Homo sapiens: one gene and its partners. The protein of the gene in region 2 interacts with the protein of the main gene of each other region in a biochemical or structural test. Each region holds a gene or a part of one and is shown on either strand. Other genes may lie near its edges.

Region 1 (7,505 bases), on a different chromosome or scaffold from region 2:
GGAGGCAGAGACGGGAAGAATACTTGATGTCAGGAGACCACCCTGGCCAACATGGTGAAACCCTGTCATTACTAAAATTAGCCATGCATGGTGGCACAGGCGCCTGTAATCCCAGCTACTTGGGAGGCTGAGGCAGGAGAATCACTTGAACCTGCATGGCGGAGGTTGCAGTGAGCCAAGATCACGCCACTGCTCTCCAGCCTGGGTGATAAAAGCGAGACTGTGCCCCCCCAAAAAAAACAAAAAAAATGGTGTGATACCTTACAGTAAATAGTCTTCAATGTGATTATTATGCATTGTATGCTTCTACCGAAGTATCTCATGCATCCCATCCCCTAAGTATATACACCTACTATGTATTCACACAAATTTTGTTCTCTTTGTGATAGAGTCTTGTTCTGTAGCCCCAGCACATTATCTCAACCTCTTCCTCCAAGATGCAAGCAATTCTCCTGCCTCAGCCTCCCCAGCAGCTGGGATTACAGGCACCACCACATCTGGCTCATTTTTTGTATTTTTACTAGAGACGTAGTTTCACCATGTTGCCCAGGCTGATCTCAAACTCCCAAGCTCAGACAATCCACCTGTCTCGGCCTCCCAAAGTGCTAGGATTACAGGCATGAGCCACTGCACCCAGACACTTTTTTCTCTTTTCTTTTGAGAGGCAGTCTTGCTCTGTCGCCCAGGCTGGCGTGCAGTGTTATGATCTCAGCTCACTGAAACCTCTGCCTCCTGGGTTCAAGTGATTCTCCTGCCTCTGCCTCCCGAGTAGCTGGGACTACAGGCACCTGCCACCAGACCTGGCTAATTTTTGTATTTTTAGTAGAGATGAGGTTTCACCATGTTGGCCGGGCTGATCCTGAACTCCTGACCTCAACTGATCTGTCTGCCTCGGCCTCCCAAAGTGCTGGGATTACAGGTGTGAGCCACTGTGCCCAGCTAAAAATTCTTCATATGCCAAGATACCAAGAAAGATGTTTCTCCTAAGGCTAATTAATAACTGTCATTAAATTAAGTTTAGTTATATTATCATTGACTTCGTAGCTATCAGTTAACTTTTTTTTTTTTTTTTTGAGATGAAGTTTCACTCTTGTCACCCAGGTTGGAGTGCAATGACGTGATCTCGGCTCACCGCAACCTTTGCCTCGTGGGTTCAAGCAATTCTCTTGCCTCAGCCTCTCAAGTAGCTGCGAATACAGCTGTGCGCCACCACGCCTGGCTAATTTTTGTATTATTAGTAGAGACGGGGGTTTCACCATGTTGGCCGTGCTAGTCTCAAACTCCCGACATCAGGTGACCCACCCACCTTGGCCTCCCAAAGTGCTGGGATTACAGGCATGAGCAACTGCGCCCAGCCTAGGTAACTTTCATTAGTTTTTTAAAAATTGGCTAATATTTTTACAGTAAAAAAAAAAAACCTTTGTATTTTGGAGAAAATATTTAAGAGCTAAGAGACTAATTCTTATTCAACAATCATGGATAAACTATTCATCAACTACTTAGGGTTTCACAGTACTTCCAAATTTCTTTAAAGCAAGATGTTCAAAGAAAAACCCTTCCCAAAAGTATGAATAAAGCACTGTATAACAGCAGAAGAAAGACATTCTATCTAGTAACTTTCACAAGTTCCCTCAACTAACAAAATTGGTATAAAATTATAAAAAGAACTACCAACGTTTTTCTTACCCAATATTCCATTATACATTTAAGACTACCTAAAATGAATTACATTAGTAATAAGTTTATCCGAATAACATCTCAAACATATCTATCCTTATTGGACTTTAGTTTTTCACTGTATTACCAGTCTCAGGTTTTTTGATTACAGAGATTGTGTAAACGTATTATCTTGAAACCCCATTTATTTGGCATGACAAATCAAGTGATAAAAATTCTACAATGTAACATAAAAGTGGTCACATCTACCCCTAATATTTCTGCAAGAGCAAATAAATACATACCTTTATTTGAACTAGGAAATCTCTTAAATGTTCCTTGAAAGCAGGAATATCTTGATTTAAGCTGAAAAGCCCTGTCACAAAGAGCTTTACTTGAGCACTGCAAATCAAAACACAATGATTAAATAATGATTTATTTTTCCCCCGAGACAGAGTATTGCTCTGTCACCAGGCTGGAGTACAGTGGCATGATCTCTGCTCACTGTAATCTCTGCCTCCCGGGTTCAAGACATTCTCCTGCCTCAGCGTCCCAATAATGTTTTTTTTTTTTAATCAAGAATTTTTTTTTAATTTTTGAGACAAAGTTTTGCTCGTTTACCAGGTTGGAGTACAATCGCACAATCGCGGCTCACCGCAACCTCTGAAGCTATTCTCCTGCCTCAGCCTCCCAAGTAGCTGGGATTACAGGCATGCACCACCATGCCCGGCTAATTTGTATTTTTAGTAGAGACAGGGTTTCTCCATGTTGGTCAGGCAAATCTCAAACTCCTGACCTCAGGTAATCTGCCCGCCTAGGCCTCCCAAAGTGCTTGGATTACAGGCGTTTGCCACCGTGCCCAGCCTTTTTATTTTTTGAGACAGTCTTGCTCTGTCACCCACACTGGAGTGCAGTGGCACAATCTCGGCTCACTGCAACCTCTGCCTCCTGGGTTCAAGCAGTTCTCCCCCTCAGCCTCCCAAGTAGCTGGGATTTCAGGCACCCACCACCATGCCCAACTAATTTTTTGTATTTTTAGTAGAAACGGGGTTTCACCATCTTGGCCAGGCTGGTCTTGAACTCCTGACCTTGTGATTCACCCACCTCAGCCTCCCAAAGTGTTGGGATTACAGTCATGAGCCACCGTGCGTGGCCTTTTTTTTTTTTTTTTTTTTTTTGCTTTTTTAAAGAGGCAGGGTCTCACTCTATCACCCAGGCTGGTGTACAGTGGTGCGATCATAGCTCACTGCAGTCTTAAACTCCAGGATGCAAACAACCCTCTCGCCTCAGCCTCTCCAACAGCTGGTCCTACAGATGCATACCACTTCTGACTACTTTTTTTTTTGTAGAGACGGGATCTTGTTTTGTTGTCTAGGTTGGTCTCCAACTTTTGGGCCCAAGCAATCCTCCCACCTTAGGCTTCCCAAAGTGCTGGGATTACAGGTGTGAGCCACTGTGCCCGACCAGGAACATTCTACGTTTATTAAAAGGTATATTTACTCTTGTAGGTGAGGGAAGGCCGACTTAAGGAGATTAGCCACATATTCCTGAAGAAAGATTTGGTTGTTAACTGGATTTCCAGGATTTAATGATGTACTTATTTTTCCTTCTTCAACCAAATTAAACATATATGCAAGAATTGATGCATGCATTGTTAAACCTGTTGATAAGAAGAAAATTATTAACTCCAAAATGTAATATAACTATAGATCTTAGCGTTTTTTTTTGTTTTGTTTTTTTTTTTTAGACGGAGTCTCGCTCTGTCACCCAAGCTGGAATGCCGTGGCGCAATCTTAGTTCACTGCAACCTCTGCCTCCTCGGTCCAAGCCATTCTCCTGCCTCAGCCTCCCGAATAGGTGGGATTGCAATCACATGCCACCATGCCCAGTATTTTTATTGTATCTTTTATTTTTTTATGGTATTTTTAGTACAGACAGTTTCACCATGGTGGCCAGGCTGTTCTCGAACTCCTGACCTCATAATCTCCCCGCCTCGACCTCCCAAAGTGCTGGGATTATAGGCGTGAGGCCCTGTGCCCAGCTGGCACTTAACATTTAAATCGTATTAAATTCTTACCAGCAGTATGTGAAGTGTCTGTCACAACAGAAAAGATATGCTGGAGAATATCACAAAAATAAGTTTGATAAAAACTCTGAGCTGCAGCTTCTTCTTGTGCAACATTTTGTAAGAGTGTAAAAAGTATCTGTAAGCCTAAAAGACATAGAATACCAATGGAAAGTTACTACAGACTGACAGCACTCATGATAGTATTTAGCTCTTATCAAAGTATTCTGAATCTAACCCTGTTCTCCCTTTTTTTTGGGATGATGACTAATAATTACTTGCATAAGGTTTCTTAAATTAATAATGGAATACAACTATATCCAATGCTGGCTTACTTATAAATTATAATAAGTTGTGTGAGAGCTAAACTGTGAAGATGTAAAGGCATAAAGATCATATAATGGACTTTGGGGACTTGTGGGGAAGGGCAGGAGTGGGTGAGGGATAAGACTACACATAAGGTGGAGTTCATACACATGAGGGATAAGACTACACATAAAGTAGAGTTCATACTGCTCACATGACAGGTGCACCAAAATCTCAGAAATCACCACTGAAGAACTTATTCATGTAACCAAAAACCACCTGTTCCCCAAAAACTATTGAAATAAAAAAAGAACCTCATGAATATTTTTTAAAAGCCTATGGGAAAAAAATTACAATCTAAGTTATGACTATTACCACCCTTTCACCATTTCTGAAAGCTCAGCTGATTCTATATGAACTTCTACAACATCACTACCCAGTAGAACTTTGTATTACGCAAACCAATTATTACTAGGCCGCTCTCCCCATAACTCAATTCTGCCTATGGACTCACTTGGAGTGGAGTGGAACAGTTGATTAAACTGCTTATAGGATTTTCTCAGATGTTCATATATGTAATTCACACACTCAAAACTCTGAACAAGTAATACCTTCCTATGTACAATTAACTATATTTGTATTTTTGGATTGGCAGGCAAATGAATAAAAGAACATCTTTTATTTACCCGTATCTGCGACATTCCTCATAGTATGTTTGAAAGCCCAAATGATGGAATCCAAAACAAGTTTAAACTGTGTAGGTGGAATAGCAAGGAATGCTGGGAAACAATGAGAATTGACAGCCTGAAGTAGTAAGAAAAAGTTCGTTCTATGTTCAGGATATTCTTCAAAGTCCTAAAAATAAGTGGTGGAAACAAAATAATGTTTCAGTGTCTTTGTTGTGCTAGACAGGAGGGGAAAAGCAAGGCTTAATCCAGTATAAATATTTGGAGTTTTCAATAAACCACAGAAGATAGAATGCCTCCTGAAAGGTAAACCCAAGTAAAATACAATCCACCTCTCACGGAAAATGAAACTGTCCCGTTACGCACATGAGTTATCAAATTGAAGGAGAAAGACAACCTTTTTAATAGAGAACTCATCTAAACCATTATTACCATAAGACTACTACTATCACTTTTGTTTTTAATTTGAAATCACCACTACAGATTACAAAAAAATTTAAGTTACCGTGTAAATGTGTCCACTTAACGTATCTTTTATCTCTTTTTTCTTTTTAAACAGTCTCACTCTGTCACCCAGGCTGTAGTGCAGTGGCGCAATCTCAGCTGACTGCAACCTCCGCCTCCTGGGTTCAAGAGATTCTCCTGCCTCAGCCTCCCGAGTAGCTGGGACTACAGGCATGCGGCACCATGCCCAGCTAATTTTTTTTCTTTAGACAGAGTCTTGCTCTGTCACCCAGGCTGGAGTGCGTGGCGCGATCTTGGCTCACTGCAAGCTCCGCCTCCCGGGTTCATGCCATTCTCCTGCCTCAGCCTCTCCGAGTAGCTGGGACTACAGGCGCCCACCACCACACCCGGATAATTTTTTGTATTTTTAGTAGAGACAGGGTTTCACCATGGTCTCCATCTCCTGACCTCGTGATCTGCCCACCTCGGCCTCCCAAAGTGCTGGGATTACAAGCGTGAGCCACGGCACCCAGCCTAATCTTTGAGTAGAGATGGGGTTTCACCATGTTGGTCAGGCTGGTCTTGAAATCCTGACCTCAGGTGATCCACCGGCCTCGGCCTCTCAAAGTGTTGGGATTACAGGTGTTGAGCCACCACGCCTGGCCATTTTTGTATTTTTAATAGAGATGGGGTTTTGCCACGTTAGGCAGGCTGGTCTTGAACTCCCGACCTCAGGTCATCCGCCCGCCTTGGCCTTCTGAAGTGCTGGGATTACAGGTGTAAGCCACCATGGCCAGCCTATTTTCTCTTGTTAACACATTTTTCAGTTTCTTATAAGCATATACTACACTTTTATAATTGAAACATGCAGACTTACTTTCTCATTTATTCAAACCAATTAATACAACTACGTTCATAAAAGGATGCCCCGACCTATGAGGTTTCAATAAATGCTACATACCATGTGAATGCTAAAATCTGTTTTCCATATTTACTTTTTACCAATCAAGATTCTGTGTAGTAAATTCTTCTTCTTGGAGTGCAGTGGCGCAATCTCAGCTCACTGCCATCTTGAACTCCCAGGCTCAAGTGACCCCCCCCCCCACTTCAGCCTTTCGAGTAGTTGGGACTACCGGCACATGCCACCATGACTGGTTACTTTTTGAACTTTTTGTAGAGATGAAGTCTCACTATATTGCCCAGGTTGGTTTCAAACTCCTGGGAAGTAAGTTCTTGAAAACCAAGAAAGTATTTCCCTAATATACAAGTTTAAATATTTAAACTCCATGGCATTAAAATTATGTTATATCCACAGACATACTTTAGCTTTCAAGAATTAAGGCTATCCTGCAGAATTTCCCCCTTACATAACTGAAATATTACACACCTTATTTATCATATTCAATGTGCATTCAAAAACAGCATCAAATATTTGAGGTATTTCAGCTGTTATATGTCCCCCTAACTTGTTGACAATTATGGCCATAGTACTAAGCACTTCTGGTTCTCTAGCAGCTGGGACATTTCTCTGATAATCAATGAGAACTGCATCCAACAGAGGGGGAACAAAATTTTCAGCGACCTGTTGGGGAGGGAAAAAAAAGTTATGTTTTAATTTAGGTACATGGTGACTATTTTAAACAACAAGGTTATTCCTGTCTATGAGATGTAGCATGATCATCTACTGAAAACAGGAAAATCTTGTGTTTGTATTAGGGTTTCCTACGTCAAAACAGTTTTTAGCAAAAGAAAGCAGGAAATCACAATGGGTTGGGAAGTCTCATGGACACACTGTCATTCAAGACTTTTTTTTTTTGAGACAGTCTCACTGTCACTCAGACCAGAGTGCAGTGGCAAATCTCTGCTCACTGCAACCTCCACCTCCCAGGTTCAAGCAATTCTTGTGCCTCAGTCTCCTGAGTAGCTGGGACTATAGGTATAGCACCATGCCCAGCTACAAAACTCTCACAATAAGAAAAGTGAGGCTCAAAATTCAGTGGGTGTCTCCAACTTAGGTGGCAGAATCAGGATTCTACGTATACTGTATATGTAAGATGGCAGCAAGCGAGCCCTCAATACTGTCTTTTTATTTTTGAGACGGAGTCTTGCTCTGTCGCCCAGGCTGGAGTGCAGTGGTGCCATCTTGGCTCACTGCAAGCTCCGCCTCCAGGTTCACGCCATTCTCCTGCCTCAGCCTATCGAGTAGCTGGGAGTACAGGCACCTGCCACCACGCCCAGCTAATTTTTTATATTTTTAGTAGAGACGGGGTGTTTCACCGTGTTAGCCAGGATGGTCTTGATTTCCTGACCTCGTGATCCACCCAACTCAGACTAATGTTTTAATCTAA
Region 2 (7,505 bases):
GCCAGGCACGGTGGCTCACGCCTGTAATCCCAGTACTTTGAGAGGCCGAGGCGGGTGGATCACAAGGTCAGGAGATCGAGACCATCCTGGCTAACACGGTGAAACCCCGTCTCTATTAAAAATATAAAAAATTAGCTGGGTGTGGTGGTGGATGCCTGTAGTCCCAGCTCCTCGGGAGGCTGAGGCAGGAGAATGGCGTGAACCCGGCAGGCGGAGCTTGCAGTGAGCCAAGATGGCGCCACTGCACTCCAACCTGGGCCACAGAGCAAGACTCCATCTCAAAAAAATAAAACAAATAAATAAAATCTTAAAAAACAGCCAGGTGCAGTAGCTTACGTCTGTAATCCCAGCACATTGGGAGGCCGAGGTGGGCAGATCACTTGAGGTCAGGAGTTTGAGACCAGCCTGACCAACATGGTGAAATACCATTTCTACTAAAACTACAAAAATTAGCTGGCAGGTGGTGTCCGCCTGTAATCCCAGCTACCCAGGAGGCTGAGGCAGGAGAATCACTTGAACCTGGGAGACGGAGGTTGCAGTGAGCCCAGATCACACCACTGCACTCCAGCCTGGGCTACAGAGCAAGACTCCGTCTCAAAAAAAAAAAAATTAATCTTAAAAAATACTCTGTGGCCCTAAAGCAAAGTCCACACTTCATAATCATAAATAATAAATTTAAGTTCAAGGATTAAAGGAGTGAATTTTAGAATGTGAACTGGCTAAATCCACTGGGTATTCTCTCTCCAAGAAAGAAGGGTTCTTCATTTGGCAAAACATGTCAAAAATGCCACTGAGATTTAGACTAATTAAAAATTCAATCTGGGGATTAGAATTCAATACTACATACATATCAGGAACATTCAACGTATAAGGTATTGTGAATACATTAGCTTTTCAAATTATATTTAACCTGAGTTGAAGGATTAATGAGCTGGGCGCAGTGGCTCATGCCTGTAATCCCAGCACTTTGGGAGGCTGAGGCAGACAGGTCACCTGAGGTCAGGAGTTCAAGACAAGCCTGGCCAACATGGCGAAACCCTGTCTCCATTAAAAAATGCAAAAATTAGCCAGGCGTGGTGGCAGGCACCTGTAATCCCAGCTACTTGAGAGGCTGAGGGAGGGAGAATTGCTTGAACCCAGGAGGCAGAGGTTGCAGTGAGCCGAGATCACATCACTGCACTCCAGCCTGGGCGACTGAGCGAGACTCCATCTCAAAAAAAAGGATTAATGAAAGGCAGCTGGGGTGGGGGCAGGCTACTCTATAACACTAACTCAGAAACAGCTGGGGTGGGGGAAGGCTATTCTATAACACTAACTCAGAAACAGCTGGGGTGGGGGAAGGCTATTCTATAACACTAACTCAGAACTCACTTGTAATTAACGACATTCTTTTCTTATAAACCTTTTCACAGGAATAACCAGAGGCATCTTTTCAGTATGGCCAACTCCTTGTCATTCCTATATATCCTTCCTTCCTTCTATACAAAGCTCTTTTCTTCCTACTAGTTTTCTTGACTTCAGTTCTGTTCAACTCCCTTTTCTTCACATTATCCTTAGCAGTGTTCAGATTATAAAATCTCCTTTCTCAAATAGTTTCACTGGATCTTTAACTATAAATATCAAATGCAGTCCATCATCAGTTTTAAGGTTCTGGAATCTTATTCTCCCAGGGAGCAGGTTTTTAATTCTTCAGCTAGAAAAGTACTTTAAATGGCTAGAGGACTTGGACTGATTGGATAGGGTAAACTTCGCTGCTGAATGGCATAGGCTTATAAAATACAACCAATAATGTCTTAGATTTGGATGTTAAATTCAGATTATTGAAACTAGATTCAGGTCCAAGCACCGTGGCTCACGCCTGTAATCTCAGTGCTTTGGAGGCCAAGGCAGGGGTTCTGCTTCAGTCCAGGAGTTGGAGACCAGCCTGGGGAATATGGCGAAACCCTGTCTCTACCGAAAAAATACAAAAATTAGCTGGGAGCAGCCGGGCGTGGTGGCTCACGCCTGTAACCCCAGCACTTTGGGAGGCCGAGGTGGGCGGATCACAAGGTCAGGAGATTGAGACCATCCCGGCTAACATGGTGAAACCCCATCTCTACTAAGAATACAAAAAATTAGCGGGGCGTGGTGGTGGGCACCTGTAGTCCCAGCTACTTGGGAGGCTGAGGCAGGAGAATGGCGTGAACCCGGGAGGCAGAGCTTGCAGTGAGCCGAGATCGCGCCACTACACTCCAGCTTGGGCGACAGAGCAAGACTCTGTCTCAAAAAAAAAAAAAAAAAAAGAGCTGGGAGCCTGAAGCAGGAGAATCACTTGAATCCCAGAGCGGGGCGGAGGTTGCAGTGAGCCAAGATCGTGCCATTGCACTCCAGCCTGGGCAACAGAGTGACACTGTCTTAAAAAAAAAAAAAGAAAACTCAATAAAAGCTCACAGTAGTTAAACTCACTAAAAGTTACCTACAAGATACTATCACACTTTTTCTCAGGTAACATGTTTGAAAATTGGGAGTAAGAGTTTGTTTCTTAAATCACACTAAGAAAAAGATATGCAAAATCAAGCAAACTGAAATATCTATAGATAGAAAAGGCATCCTATCATCCTGTTTCTGACAGTAAATGGTATGTGTCAGCAAGACTTGAAACCAAACTTCCCAACACAGAAGAATCTTTTAAAAATATATTACAACCATGAAGATAAGCTAAATAGCTACAAATAATTTTTTTTTTTTTTAAATACAAGCTAGCTGGGCGTGGTGGCTCAAGCCTGTAATCCCAACACTTTGGGAATCTGAGGCAGGCAGATCACAAGGTCAGGACTTCAAGACCAGCCTGGCCAACATGGTGAAACCCCGTCCCTACTAAAGATATAAAAACTTAGCCAGGAATAATGGTGCGTGCTACTCCAGAGGCTGAGGCAGGAGAATTGCTTGAACCTGGCAGGCGGAGGTTGCAGTGAGCCGAAATCGCACCATTGCACTTCAGCCTGGGTGACAGGGCGAGACTCGTCTCAAAAAAAAAAAAAAAAGAAAATACAAGATAATTACAATCTTTGCAATACTCTGTGCCTAATGAAAATGGTTTTGGCTGGGCAAGGTGGCTCACGCCTGTAATCCCAGCACTTTGGGAAGCCGAGGAGGGCAGATCACTTGAGGTCAGAAGTTTGAGACCACCACACCAACATGGTGAAACCCCGTGTCTACTAAAAATACAAAAATAGCCAGGCGTGGTGGCACACACCTGTAACCCCAGTTACTCAGGAGGCTGAAGCAGGAGAATCCCTTGAGCCTGGGAGGCAGAGACTGCAGTGAGCCAAGATCACAGCATGGCACTCCAGCCTGGGTGACAGAGCTAGATTCTGTCTCAAAAAAAAAGAAAAGTAAACAGTTTTAATTAGTGACATCAGACTACAATTTTTATTTTACTTCAAACTAAGATATCTGCCTTGTCAGGGACTTCCCAGAAAATGGATACAGCAAGTGGACTTTTTTGTCACTTATTAGAAAAATTAAGTAAATTAATATAATACCACACAAAACCTCTCATCACAAACAAAACACCTACTTTGCATTAAACAATTTAATACATGCAAGTATTGAATTTAGTCACCTAAAGGAAACAAAACTTCTGATAAGAAGCAGGAAAATTCAGAGACAATATGAAGACCCTAAATCAGGAGACTAATTTGAGTAATAATAAAACTGTGGTCTCCCACAAAAAAAAAGATCCTAAATCAAACAGTTCTATTTAATTTCAAATTTCAATTGCATATATATAATAAGGACTCAATTTTTAATAACTCCTTACCTATATACATATGCCAGGTCCTGTTCTAAAATCTTCACTTGTCCCATTTAACCTCCACAACAATTTTCACTTTACAGATGAGTAAATTAACTTGTCCAAGTCCAGGCAGAACAGGGATCCAAACTCAGGCTGACTCCATTACACTACAATGTTTTCCTAACAACTATCCTATCAACTATCCAATCCTATCAATGTTTCCATTTCTATTCCCACTGATTATATTAAGCATCTAGGATAAAGCAAATAAGGATAAAATAAAAGTTAAAAACTTGGTGACTTCTGGAATGATTTAAATATTCGACCTCTAAATATCCCTCCTTTTCAAATCTGAGAACACTCCAGCTATCAGATACCAGGCAGGACATACTTATTTGGGACAGAGTATCACAAAGAAGCTACCAAAACAAATAAAAACAATACTATCATATAAACCATGGTATAGCAAACAATGACCTGTGGGCTGGGCCAAATTCAGACCTTGGTCTTTTTTCATACAAGCTAAGAATGGTTTTTACATTTGCTAAAGGACTTTTAAAAACAAAACAAAGGACAATTTACCACAGCAAAGCCTAAAAATTCACTATCTGTGTCCCTTTCAGAAAAAGTTTACTGACCCCTGATCTAAGCTACTGATAAAGAGGTTTCCTTCCCCTTTTTAAAAATAGCTAAGCAGTGGCTCATGCCTGTAATCCCAGCACTTCGCGGGAGGCCAAGGCAGGTGGATGGATCACTTGAGGTCGGGAGTTCGAGACCAGCCTGATCAACATGGAGAAACCCCATCTCTACTAAAAATACAAAATTAGCTGGGAGTGGTGGCGCATGCCTGTAATTCCAGCTACTTGGGAGGCTGAAGCAGGAGAGTTGCTTGAACCCAGGAGGTGGAGGTTGCAGTGAGCCAAGATGGTGCCGTTGCACTCCAGCCTGGGCAACAAGAGCGAAACTCTGTCTAAAAAAAAAAAAAAAGCTAAATGCGCCAGGTGCAGTGGCTCACGCTTATAATCCCAGCACTTTGAGAGGCCGAGGAGGCCAGACCACGCAGTGAGGAGTTCGAGACCAGCCTGGCCAACTTGGTGAAACCCAGTCTCTATTAAAAATACAAAAATTAGGCCGAGTGTGGTAGCTCACACCCATAATCCCAGCACTTTGGGAGGTCAAGGCAGGTGGATCAGGAAGTCAGGAGTTCAAGAACAGCTTGGCCAAGATGGTGAAACCCTGTCTCTACTAAAAATACAAAAATTAGCTGGGCGTGGTGGCACGTGCCTGTAGTCCCAGCTACTCGGGAGGCTGAGGCAGAGAACTGCTTGAACCCAGGAGGCGGAGGTTGCAGTGAGCCGAGGTCGCACCATTGCACTCCAGCCTGGGTGACAGAACAAGACTCCATCTCAAAAAAAAAAAAAAAATACAAAAATTAGCTAGGCGTGGTGGCCTGCGCCTGTAATCCCAGCTACTCAAGAGCTGAGGCAGGAGAGCTGCTTGAACTCGGGAGGCAGAAGTTGCAGTGAGCCAAGATTGTGCCACTGCACTCCAGCCTGGGCAACAGAGCAAGACTCTGTCTCGGGGGGGGGGGGAAAAAAGCTAAATGCAGGAACTGACTTGTAAGACAAACTATATCTAGGAGGATTAAAGGCGGAGTCCCTTAGCTCTAAACCAGAAGATAAATGTCTGAAGCATACTACCCACACCACCCCACCCCACCCCCATCCCGGGACAAAAAGGGCAAAAATAAGTGGTTTCCTCTCACCAGGAGGTGGCAGTAGGTTCTGGTTTGCCCATGGACTCAAGTTTTTTGTAGTGGTTACTAAGAAAAGCAAGCAGCCTGACCTCTCCAAAGAGCTGACTTTCTGTGCCTGACAATCTGAACAAAAAGGAAATGGAAAAGGAAGACAGGAACTAACCACATTCTCTTCAGTTACCTATTCACTCTCAACTAGAAAAATGACACCATTTCTGGCCGGGCGAGGTAGCTCATGCCTGTAATACCAGCACTTTGGGAGGCCGAGGCGGGTGGATCACAAGGTCAGGAGATCGAGAACATCCTGGCTAACACGGTGAAACCCCGTCTCTGCTAAAAATACAAAAAATTAGCCGGACGTGGTGGCAAGGCACCTGTAGTCCCAGCTACTCGGGAGGCTGAGGCAGAAGAATGGCGTGAACCCGGGAGGCAGAGCTTGCAGTGAGCAGAGATCGTGCCACTGCACTCCAGCCTGGGTGACAGAGCGAGACTCTGTCTCAAAAACAAAACAAAAAAAATCAGCCGTTTGTGGTGGCGCATGCCTGTAATGCCAGCTACTCGGGAGGCTGAGGCAGGAGAATAGCTTGAACCCAGGAGGCAGAGGTTGCACTGAGCCGAGATTGCACCATTGCACTCCAGCCTGGGCAACAGATGCAAAACTCCGTCTCAAAAAAAGAAAGGAGAAAAGAAAAATGACACCATTTCCTAAATGCATCTAGGCAAAAAGGTAAAGGGGTAGGGGAGAAGGCAAGTAAGAATGATCAGCTTGCATTATTCAGGGCTGTTCTTCATATTTGCTTCTACAATTCTTAAGAGTTATTACCCTTATAACTCTTCAGTTATTTGAGCAAGACAATGAATTTGTCTGCACAACTTCATGCAAGATGACATTTTAAAGATCAGAATTTGGGCCGGGCGCGGTGGCTCACGCCTGTAATACCAGCACTTTTGGGAGGCTGTGGCGGGTGGATCACCTGAGGTCAGGAGTTTGAGACCAGCCTGACCAACATGGCGAAATCCCGTCTCTAAAAATACAAAAATTAGCCGGGCGTGGTGGCGCATGCCTGTAATCCCAACTACTTGGGAGGCTGAGGCAAGAGAATGGAATGAACCCAGGAGGCAAAGGTTGCAGTGAGCCAAGATCGAGCCACTGCACTCCAGCCTGGGCCACAGAACGAGACTCCATCTCAAAAAAAAAAAAAAAAATTAAAAAAAAAATAAGTTAAAGAAGGAAAGTAGTAAACTTACAGCATTTCCCAGGAGAGCTAAACCCAGAAGTCAAAACAGGAAATTACAAGTCAAATGAACACATGCAGAAGTCATAGGTACTGGGTGACTGTACTAGCCAAGTTGCCCTGACAGGCACTGGCAAACATCCATTAACTAACAGCGCCAGACCTCTCATTGTTTCTTACTCCAACTTTCTGCTATACTACCAAAAGCTTAATTTTTGCCCAGAAACCCTTGGACACTTAATCAAATAACATTAGTATAAAACATGCCATGTCATGAAGCTTGCTTCATGATGACTCAGCAGCTTCTGCAAAACATCCAGTTGACAGCCTAGGATAATAAACAGCAAGTGGGTAGACCCTATGTCCACCAAAGCCTCAATAAGGACTAAAGAAAGTCCTTATTTTTAAGATTAAAAAAAAAAAAAAGGAGAGTATTCTTTTGAATATACCTGAATACTTTCCTTGGGTAGTGGTAGTTTCTGCCAATATTAAATAGCACCTACAGTGTTGATCAAGAAACCCCTAAATACCTTTACTTCCCAATTCAAAAGCTAAAATATGTTTTCTTTTTTAATTAAATAGGACAAGAAGCAAAAGTATTTTAGATAAGGGGCAATGATAAATTATCAAGATTTAAAACAAAACTACACAGCCTGAAGTCGTATCAACTCTAAGACACCTTGGATCATAGGTGTTATGCTGTTAAGACATCATCTCCCCAAAATTAGATTTTTAT
Region 3 (7,505 bases), on a different chromosome or scaffold from region 2:
TCTACTAAAAATACAAAAATTAGCTGGGCGTGGTAGTGCGCACCTGTAGTCCCAGCTACTCGGGAGGCTGAAGCAGGAGAACCACTTGAACCCAGGAGACGGAGGTTGCAGTGAGCCAAGATTGCGCCACTGCACTCCAGCCTGGTGATAGAGTGTGACTCCATCTCAAAAAAAAGTAATAACTACTAATCCACTGATAGCATCTGTATGCCAGGCCCCAGGCCAAGCACTTTGTAAGTCACTTCAGTTTACTTCCTATAGCACCACTATGAGACGGCTATTACTAACCCCATCTTACAAATAAAGAATCTGTCTTAGAGGTAATGTTACTTGTCCACAGCCCCGCACAACCAAAACTAGGATGGAAACTAAGAACTGCCTGACTCCAAAGTCCTCCTAATCCCCAGGCTTTTCCCACATCCAGACAGGACAGGTGGAGAGGTAGGCCAAGCCAAGACGGCTTGGGGGCAGAATGGGAGAAGGAGCTCAAAAAGAAAATGGGAGAGAAAGTAGCTGGGAAGCTAAGAGTGCTGAGGAAAATTCCAGCTGGGGGTGGGACCACGCTACAAACTCGGGACTCTAAAGATTCTTACCTTCCTTGAAGACTCCATTGACAGAAAAACACAGCAATGTGCTCTGAAAGAGAAGCAGCATCAGGTACAATGTACACTTCTCAGAGCCTGAGTGCCCCCCCTTGCCTATTAAATGCCACCCCCACCCCAATTCTAGGCTTCTGTCAGGCGCAAGCAGGAGCTTACTGTCTGGGCGCTTATGTCTACCACGAAGGAATTGACGTCGTGCTGGGTTTTGGGCAACTCATTGAGGAAGGCAACAACGTTGAGACGCGTGTGCTTCAGCAGCCGGAACCGCAAGGCTGTGGGTAGAGGAGAAAGCTCAGTGGTGCTGCCACACACTCCTGAGTTCTGACTGATTCCTTCCCATGCCCTTTTCCCATATTTTGTTCGTATCACACACTTACTAGGGTCTTTAAGCTTCTTCACATTTCTGCTATCCTTGAAATACTCGGCTAAGCTGCTTCTGGGGGAATAAAAGGAATGGACGTGGTGTTCAGAGCAGTGCTGCCAGCAGGTGTGCCCTGTATCTGCTGGGAAACCCAGTGGTCCCGGGCAGATTCTGGGATGTGATACTAACCGGGCAGGGTTCTGAGGAATGAAAGGAATGCTCAGGGAACAGCAGGCCCCATCATGGTAGGCATCCAGGAGCCCTTGTCGGTCTCCAGAGTCGTAAATTGCATAGTACCTATGGGAAAAACAAAAAAGAAAGTATGGGCTCTGTGGTCTACAGCCATACAAGGACCCAGTAGCTCCCAAGAGTGAGTTGTGGCCGGGCATGGAAGCTCATGCCTGTAATCCCAGCACTTTGGGAGGCTGAGATGGGTGAATAGCTTGAGCCCAGGAGTTCAAGACCAGCCTGGGCAACATGGCGAAACCCTGTCTCTACTAAAAATACAAAAAAAATGGCTAGGTGCGGTGGCTCACGCCTCTAATCCCAACACTTTGGGAGGAAGAGGCAGGTGGATCATGAGGTCAGGAGTTGGAGACCAGCCTGGCCAACATAGTGAAATCCCATCTGTACGAAAAATACAAAAATTAGCCAGGTGCAGTGGCACACACCTGTAGTCCCAGCTACTGGGGAGGCTGAGGCAGGAGAATCACTTGAACCCTGGGAGGCAGAGGTTGCAGTGAGCCAAGATCACACCATTGCACTCCAGCCTGGGTGACACAGTGAGACACTGTCCAAAAAAAAAAAAAAAAACAAAACAAAAAACAAAACAAAAAGATTGATGTGTGCCTGGGTCTGCCCACCATTCCCCCTCAACCTCGGGGTGGGGAGGGGGGACCCTGGGATACTTACTGTTGCAGGAAGTGCAAGACCAGACTCTTCAAGTTTTCTGTTCCAAAATAGCTTCCCTGAAATCAAACAGGTATTAGGAACATGGAAGCAGTATTCTCTCCACACACAAGTTCTTACTCTGTCCATGCTTCCTACCTTGCAGGGCGGTAACGTCGTGGGGGCTTCAACATCAAAGGCAATTGGTGGGGGTAGCTCATGGCCATCCTGTGGAAAGGAAGTAAAAGTTGACAGTGTAGACTGGGCCCAGTGGCTCACACCTGTGATCCCAGAACTTTGGGAGGCCGAGGCAGGCAGATGGCTTGAGCTCAGGAGTTTGAGACCAGCCTGGCTGGACAACGTGGCAAAACCCATCTCTACCAAAAAAAATACAAAAATTAGCTGGGCATGGTGGTGCGTGCCTGGAGTCCTAGCTACTTGGGAGGCTGAAGTGGGAGGATCACTTGAGCCTGGCAGGCGAAGGTTGCAGTAAGCTACGATTGTGCCACTGCACTCCAGCCTGGATGACAGAGCCAGACCCTGTCTCAAAAAACAAAACAAACAAAAAAGAAAGTTGACAGTTTAAACCAGAGAGAAAAAGGCTGGGTGCATAAGTAGACTGAAGAACTAAGAGAGAAGGGTCAGAAGTCAAGTGTAAACGCATCATGAAAAGTATCCAGGGATCCAGGCTGGGCGCAGTGGCTCACACCTGTAATCCCAGCACACTGGGAGGCCAAGGTGGATGGATTAGTTGAGGTCAGGAGTTCAAGACCATCCTGGCCAACAAGATGAAACCCCCATCTCTACTAAAAATACACAAAGAAATTAGCCGGGCATTGTGGCACATGCCTGTAATCCCAGCTACTCAGGAGGCTGAGGCAGGAGAATCACTTGAACCCAGGAGGCAAACGGTGCAGTGAGTCAAGATTGCACCACTGCACTCTGGGTAACAGAGCAAGACTCCATCCAAAAAAAAAAAAAAAAAGGGCCTGGTGCGAGTGGCTCACGTCTGTAATCCCAGCACTTTGGGAGGCCGAGGTAGGTGGATCACCTGAGGTCAGGAATTCAAGGCCAGCCTGGCGAACATGGTGAAACCCTGTCTCTACTAAAAATACAAAAATTAGCCAGGTGTGGTAGCACATGCCTGTAATCCCAGCTACTTGGGCTCAGGAGGCTGAGGCAGGAGAATCGCTTGAACCTGGGAGGCAGAGGTTGCGGTGAGCTGAAATCATGCTGTTGCACTCCAGCCTGGGCGACGAGTGAAACTCCGTCTCAAATAAAAAAAAAAAAAAGAAAAAGAAAAAGAAAAAGAAACCTATCCAGGAATCCTTGTGAGTGAGAGATGCTGTGCTTGTTAGAATGAAAAAATTATGGACTTACCAGGCGTAGTAACTTGGGAAATCGTTCGCGAATGGCGCTGTCAAGAACGGGACAGAAGTGAGTGATGCTTCAGAGCCACCGTGCCTCCTGGGCTGCTCTAGGAGCAAATATACCAAACCCGAGGGACAGCCCATCCCATCCTGCTCATCCCTCCACTCCCTCCCAGCCTGTGCTCAGGGAAAAATGGCCCCCACTCCCCACCTGACCCGGGGCACCCAGACATGGACTGCCTTGAAGGCTGTCTCTTTTCTCTCTGCCTGACCCTGAGTGTCAAGGAGCAGTACTCCAAGCCCAGGCTTTAAGCCCAGGACCTCTTTCCCCTCCCTGCCCCCCTTACCTTCCACCTACTCACCTGTGCAGCCCCGGGAGGAGGGAATGGGGTGGGAGCCCAGGGGCTCCGCTGCCTCACCAGGTATCCATCAGTTCTGCCAGGTCTGGCTTTGGCCAAGACCCAAACACACCACAGGGATGGCACAGGATGTTGGGGCAGGGAGATGAGCAGGTGGGGCTCAGGAAGAGGAGAGGCAAAGGAATAAGAAAGGAAAAGGAGGAAAAAGAGAAAAAGGCAAGATGGGGCAGGGGCAAGGGAGAGATGGGGAGGTATAGGAGACAGACAGAAAAAGGAAAGAGAAAGCAAAGAAAAAGAGAAAGAACTACAAGGCAAAAAAGCATCTAGAAAAATGAGGGAGAAAAGGGAGAAAGACACCCTGACACAGCCCTTTCTTTCAGCTGCCCCATCCCTGTGGTCCAAGGTAGAAATGAGAAACAAATCCTTGCTGTGGTGAGTGGGCACTTGCTGTTGGCCAGGTCTCTGTCTGCTACCTGGGTCCCGATCTGAACTGGGCGTGGGAAGCAAAGCAGCCATGGGGGCAGGAGACCTCCCTCAGAAGGTGTGAGGGTTCAGGCCCCTGTAGGATTGTGGGGGTGAGGGTCCATGCCCCACCTCTGTTGCCCCCAAGTTCTCTCCTGATGGCCCCTCTGCGACTGTGCCTGTCTTAGGTTGTTCCTTCCCTGAGGAATCTTACCCGTCTCTGGCTAACCAGCCATCCACCGGGGCCAAACAGGGTGACGTGCAGTGTGTGAGTGAGGGAGAGGCAGCGCCCCCGAGGGGGTCAGTTCTCTGTCTCCTTGGTAGCCTATGCCCCCGTGGCCTCCACGCCCAGCACCTGCCTTGGGATTCCCTCGCCTGCTGGCGGGGCCCCAGCTCTGGTCACATCTTGGGGAACCCAGGTTTCTTCTTCAGGGAGAGCCCAGCTCATAGCACTGGGCAAGAGAGACAGATTGCATGCCACCAGCCCCTAGGAGGCCTCAACCTCAGCATGGACAGCAACAGCCCTGGGCAAGTGGATCCTGAGAAAAGGGTCCCTCTTGGCGCAAGGGCAAGAGGGGCCATCACAGTACAAAGGAGGGAAGGCCCATCTCAGTAGGAAGTCCCAGGTAGGGAGGGCTTCCTCAACCCATGGACACCAGGCTCTTGGCACAAGGCAACCCCATCTATAGGGTATGTACAAGATACCCTCTGGTTAGAGTAGAAAGGGGAGATGCCTTTCCTGGAACAACAGGGTAGGGAGATTCTAGAAAAGGTTGTGTTCAGGAAGAAAGAGAAAGGCCACAGACCCAGCAAACAGATAGTCAAGTCAGAAGAGAAGAGAGAACATCTCAGGACAAAGCTGGAAGACACAGACAGACCAAAGTGGGGAGCACGCGATCCTCTCAAAGGACAGGTGGTTCCAGCTCAGGGCTGCACATCTCCGCAGACGGGCCCTGGTCAGGATGCATTAGCTCAGCCTCCCAGGGGGTGAAGGTCCCCAGGAGGGGAGACACAGGCTACAACTGACCTGATGTAGGTGGACTGGTCTCGGAAGGTGTCACACAGGGAGTTTCCATCGAGCCAGAGCTCTTCTAGCTTCAGCCCCTTTATCTTGTCCAATTCCCGCTCAGACTTCAACTGCAAAGGGTGGAAGGAACAAAGGGAGGAGACCCTGGTGAAGACAGCCAGCTGGCTCCCCATACCCCCAGTCCCTACGCTTAGCTCTGAGATCTTTTCTAATCTTTTAAAATTTTTTCTTTTTTTTTTTTTTTTGGGACAGGGTCTCACTCTGTCACCCAAGTTCAGTGCCGTGGCATGATCATAGTTCACTGCAGCCTCAAACTCCTGGACTCAAGAGATCCTCCCACCTCAGACTCCTGGGTAGCTAGGACTACAGGCATGTGACATCATGCTCGACTAATTTATTTTTTAAATTAAAAAAATTTTTTTGAGACAGGTTGCTCAGGCTAGAATGCAACGGCACAATCATAACTCACTGCAGCCTTGAACTCCTGAGCTCAAGCAATCCTCCCACCTCAGCCCCCTGGGGCAGCTTGGACTAGAGGCGTGCAAACTCCTAGCCTTAAGTGATCCTCCTGCCTTGGCCTCCCAAAGTGTTAGGATTAGAGTTGCAAACCAGCACATCTGGCCTGAGTTCTCTCTCTTGCCTCTTGCCATCACTGGACAAACTCTCTACACCCTCTACCCACCCCTTCAAAAATATAGCCGAGCTATCAATTCTCACTTCATTTCCAGAAAGGTTTAGGATCTTCAGGTTGGGTGCCTTCTGAACAATGCTAGACATGTCATCCAGCCTGTACAGCCTGTTGTTGCTCAAGTTCAAGGACAATAGCTGTGAGGAGAGAAGAGTTTAGAGGAGGCACCACCAGCAAGTGGATCAGAGACGAATCTGCCCTCCAGCCACTTCCTATCTAACACACCCTGCTTCCTCATGCCTAATACTGGGCCAAAGGCCTTACCTCAGGGATGTTCTCTTCAATGATCCTCAGGGTAGCTGCCATACAGCTTCTGCGATTCAGGACAACGTCAATGTTCTGGGCCACCAAATCTTCAGGAAGCAGAAGGGAAGGAAAGGGAAGACTGAGAGGGTTTGCCCATGCCAGCATTAGCAGTAAAACATCCTCAAACTTTCCCTCCCTGACAGATCCCACCTTATCACCACCTATCTGAGAACTACTGCTGTCAACCATACCTGGGTCTGAACGGAGGCCTTTGAGGTCAAGGGCTTGTTGGGAGCCATCGTATCGTTTGCTCATGATCAGCTAGAGGAAAAAGAAGGGTTTAGTGGTCACTGGGTTTGTGTGTGGGGGGTGGGGGTGTGAGAAGTAGTAAGACTGGGTTGGAAACATCTAATTTGAGCCTGCCTCACCTTTAGCTGTTCTACTTGTTCTGGCTTCAGTTCATTCAGTATAGTGTGGGGTGGAGCAGAAGAGTTGATGATGATAGATATCTGGAGGGAAGACACAGAGGGCACAGAAAACTCTAGGGAAGCCTAAGCCGCAAGAACAAGACCCAGTCCCTGCTCTGAGCACCAACCTCCACCTCCAGCCAAGCCAGGCCCTTTAAACACACCCTTCGGTTCTCCCGATCCAAAATCTTATAGTTGACAGCCTTCAATGCAGAGGCAGTACTGGCGTCTTCAACGAAGAACTGGGCCCGTGTATTCTCATAGTGAAACTACAAGAGGAAACAGGAGCATTACACTGGGAGTCCAGAGCCCTTGGGGAGGGGCATTACGCTGGGAGTCCAGCTTGCCCCTTCACCATCCCTGGTGCCTGGCCAGCCAGCCACTCAGGCCTTGTCTTACCTCAATAGGGGTGAAGGGCACACTGCACTTGCTCTGAATCATGCTCAGGAGCCATGCCTTGTCATACTTTCTGCCATAAGGAATCTAGAAATGAGAGAAAGAGAAAAGAAGGGAATGATAAGTAAGGCTGAATAGCAGACCCAATACAATGCCTTTTATACCTTCTACCAAACTTTTAAAGACTATCTAAAGAAAGGACCAGTACTAGGTTTTCTACTTGAGATACACATAGATTCTTTAACTCCTTTCTGTCTACTTACACTTACTATTTTTTCTTAGTAACAGGGCCTCACTCTGTCACTCAGGCTGGAGTGCAGTGGTGCGATCATAGCTCACTGCAGCCTTCATTTCCTAGGCTCAAGCGATCCTCCTGTCTCAGCTTTCTGGAGTAGCTAGGACTACAGGCATGTACTACCATGCCCGGCTAATTTTAAAATTTTCTGTAGAGAAGGGGTCTTGCTGTATTTCCCAGACTGGTCTTGAACTCCCAGCCTCAAGTGATCCTCCACCTCGGCCTCTCAAAGTGCTGGGATTACAGGCATGAGCCACTGTACCCAGCCCATTTACACTTATAATCTCTCAAAAAAAAATCAATTTTATTTATTCTAAAAGTTCCAAGATATTATTTACACCTTG

The links.
Region 1: the proteins of NUP153 (region 2) and XPO1 form a complex in vitro, tested with the Homo sapiens proteins (one study listed by BioGRID).
Region 3: the proteins of NUP153 (region 2) and NXF1 form a complex in vitro, tested with the Homo sapiens proteins (2 studies listed by BioGRID and IntAct).

What each region holds. Positions count from the first base shown.
Region 1 is NC_000002.12:61,479,224-61,486,728, forward strand, and holds part of XPO1 (exportin-1), read right to left. Parts: intron 6,740-7,505; coding exon 6,545-6,739; intron 4,883-6,544; coding exon 4,714-4,882; exon of another isoform or gene 3,869-4,713; coding exon 3,734-3,868; exon of another isoform or gene 3,404-3,733; intron 3,317-3,403; coding exon 3,157-3,316; intron 2,059-3,156; coding exon 1,962-2,058; intron 1,361-1,961; exon of another isoform or gene 1,102-1,360; intron 1-1,101. UniProt on the Homo sapiens protein: Mediates the nuclear export of cellular proteins (cargos) bearing a leucine-rich nuclear export signal (NES) and of RNAs.
Region 2 is NC_000006.12:17,696,475-17,703,979, forward strand, and holds part of NUP153 (nuclear pore complex protein Nup153), read right to left. Parts: intron 1-7,505. UniProt on the Homo sapiens protein: Component of the nuclear pore complex (NPC), a complex required for the trafficking across the nuclear envelope. Functions as a scaffolding element in the nuclear phase of the NPC essential for normal nucleocytoplasmic transport of proteins and mRNAs.
Region 3 is NC_000011.10:62,795,308-62,802,812, forward strand, and holds part of NXF1 (nuclear RNA export factor 1), read right to left. Parts: intron 6,954-7,505; coding exon 6,870-6,953; intron 6,740-6,869; coding exon 6,635-6,739; intron 6,513-6,634; coding exon 6,432-6,512; intron 6,325-6,431; coding exon 6,255-6,324; intron 6,111-6,254; coding exon 6,022-6,110; intron 5,895-6,021; coding exon 5,787-5,894; intron 5,180-5,786; coding exon 5,070-5,179; coding exon of another isoform or gene 5,015-5,069; exon of another isoform or gene 3,269-5,014; coding exon 3,232-3,268; intron 2,080-3,231; coding exon 2,011-2,079; intron 1,932-2,010; coding exon 1,876-1,931; intron 1,261-1,875; coding exon 1,153-1,260; intron 1,039-1,152; coding exon 980-1,038; intron 875-979; coding exon 759-874; intron 637-758; coding exon 594-636; intron 1-593.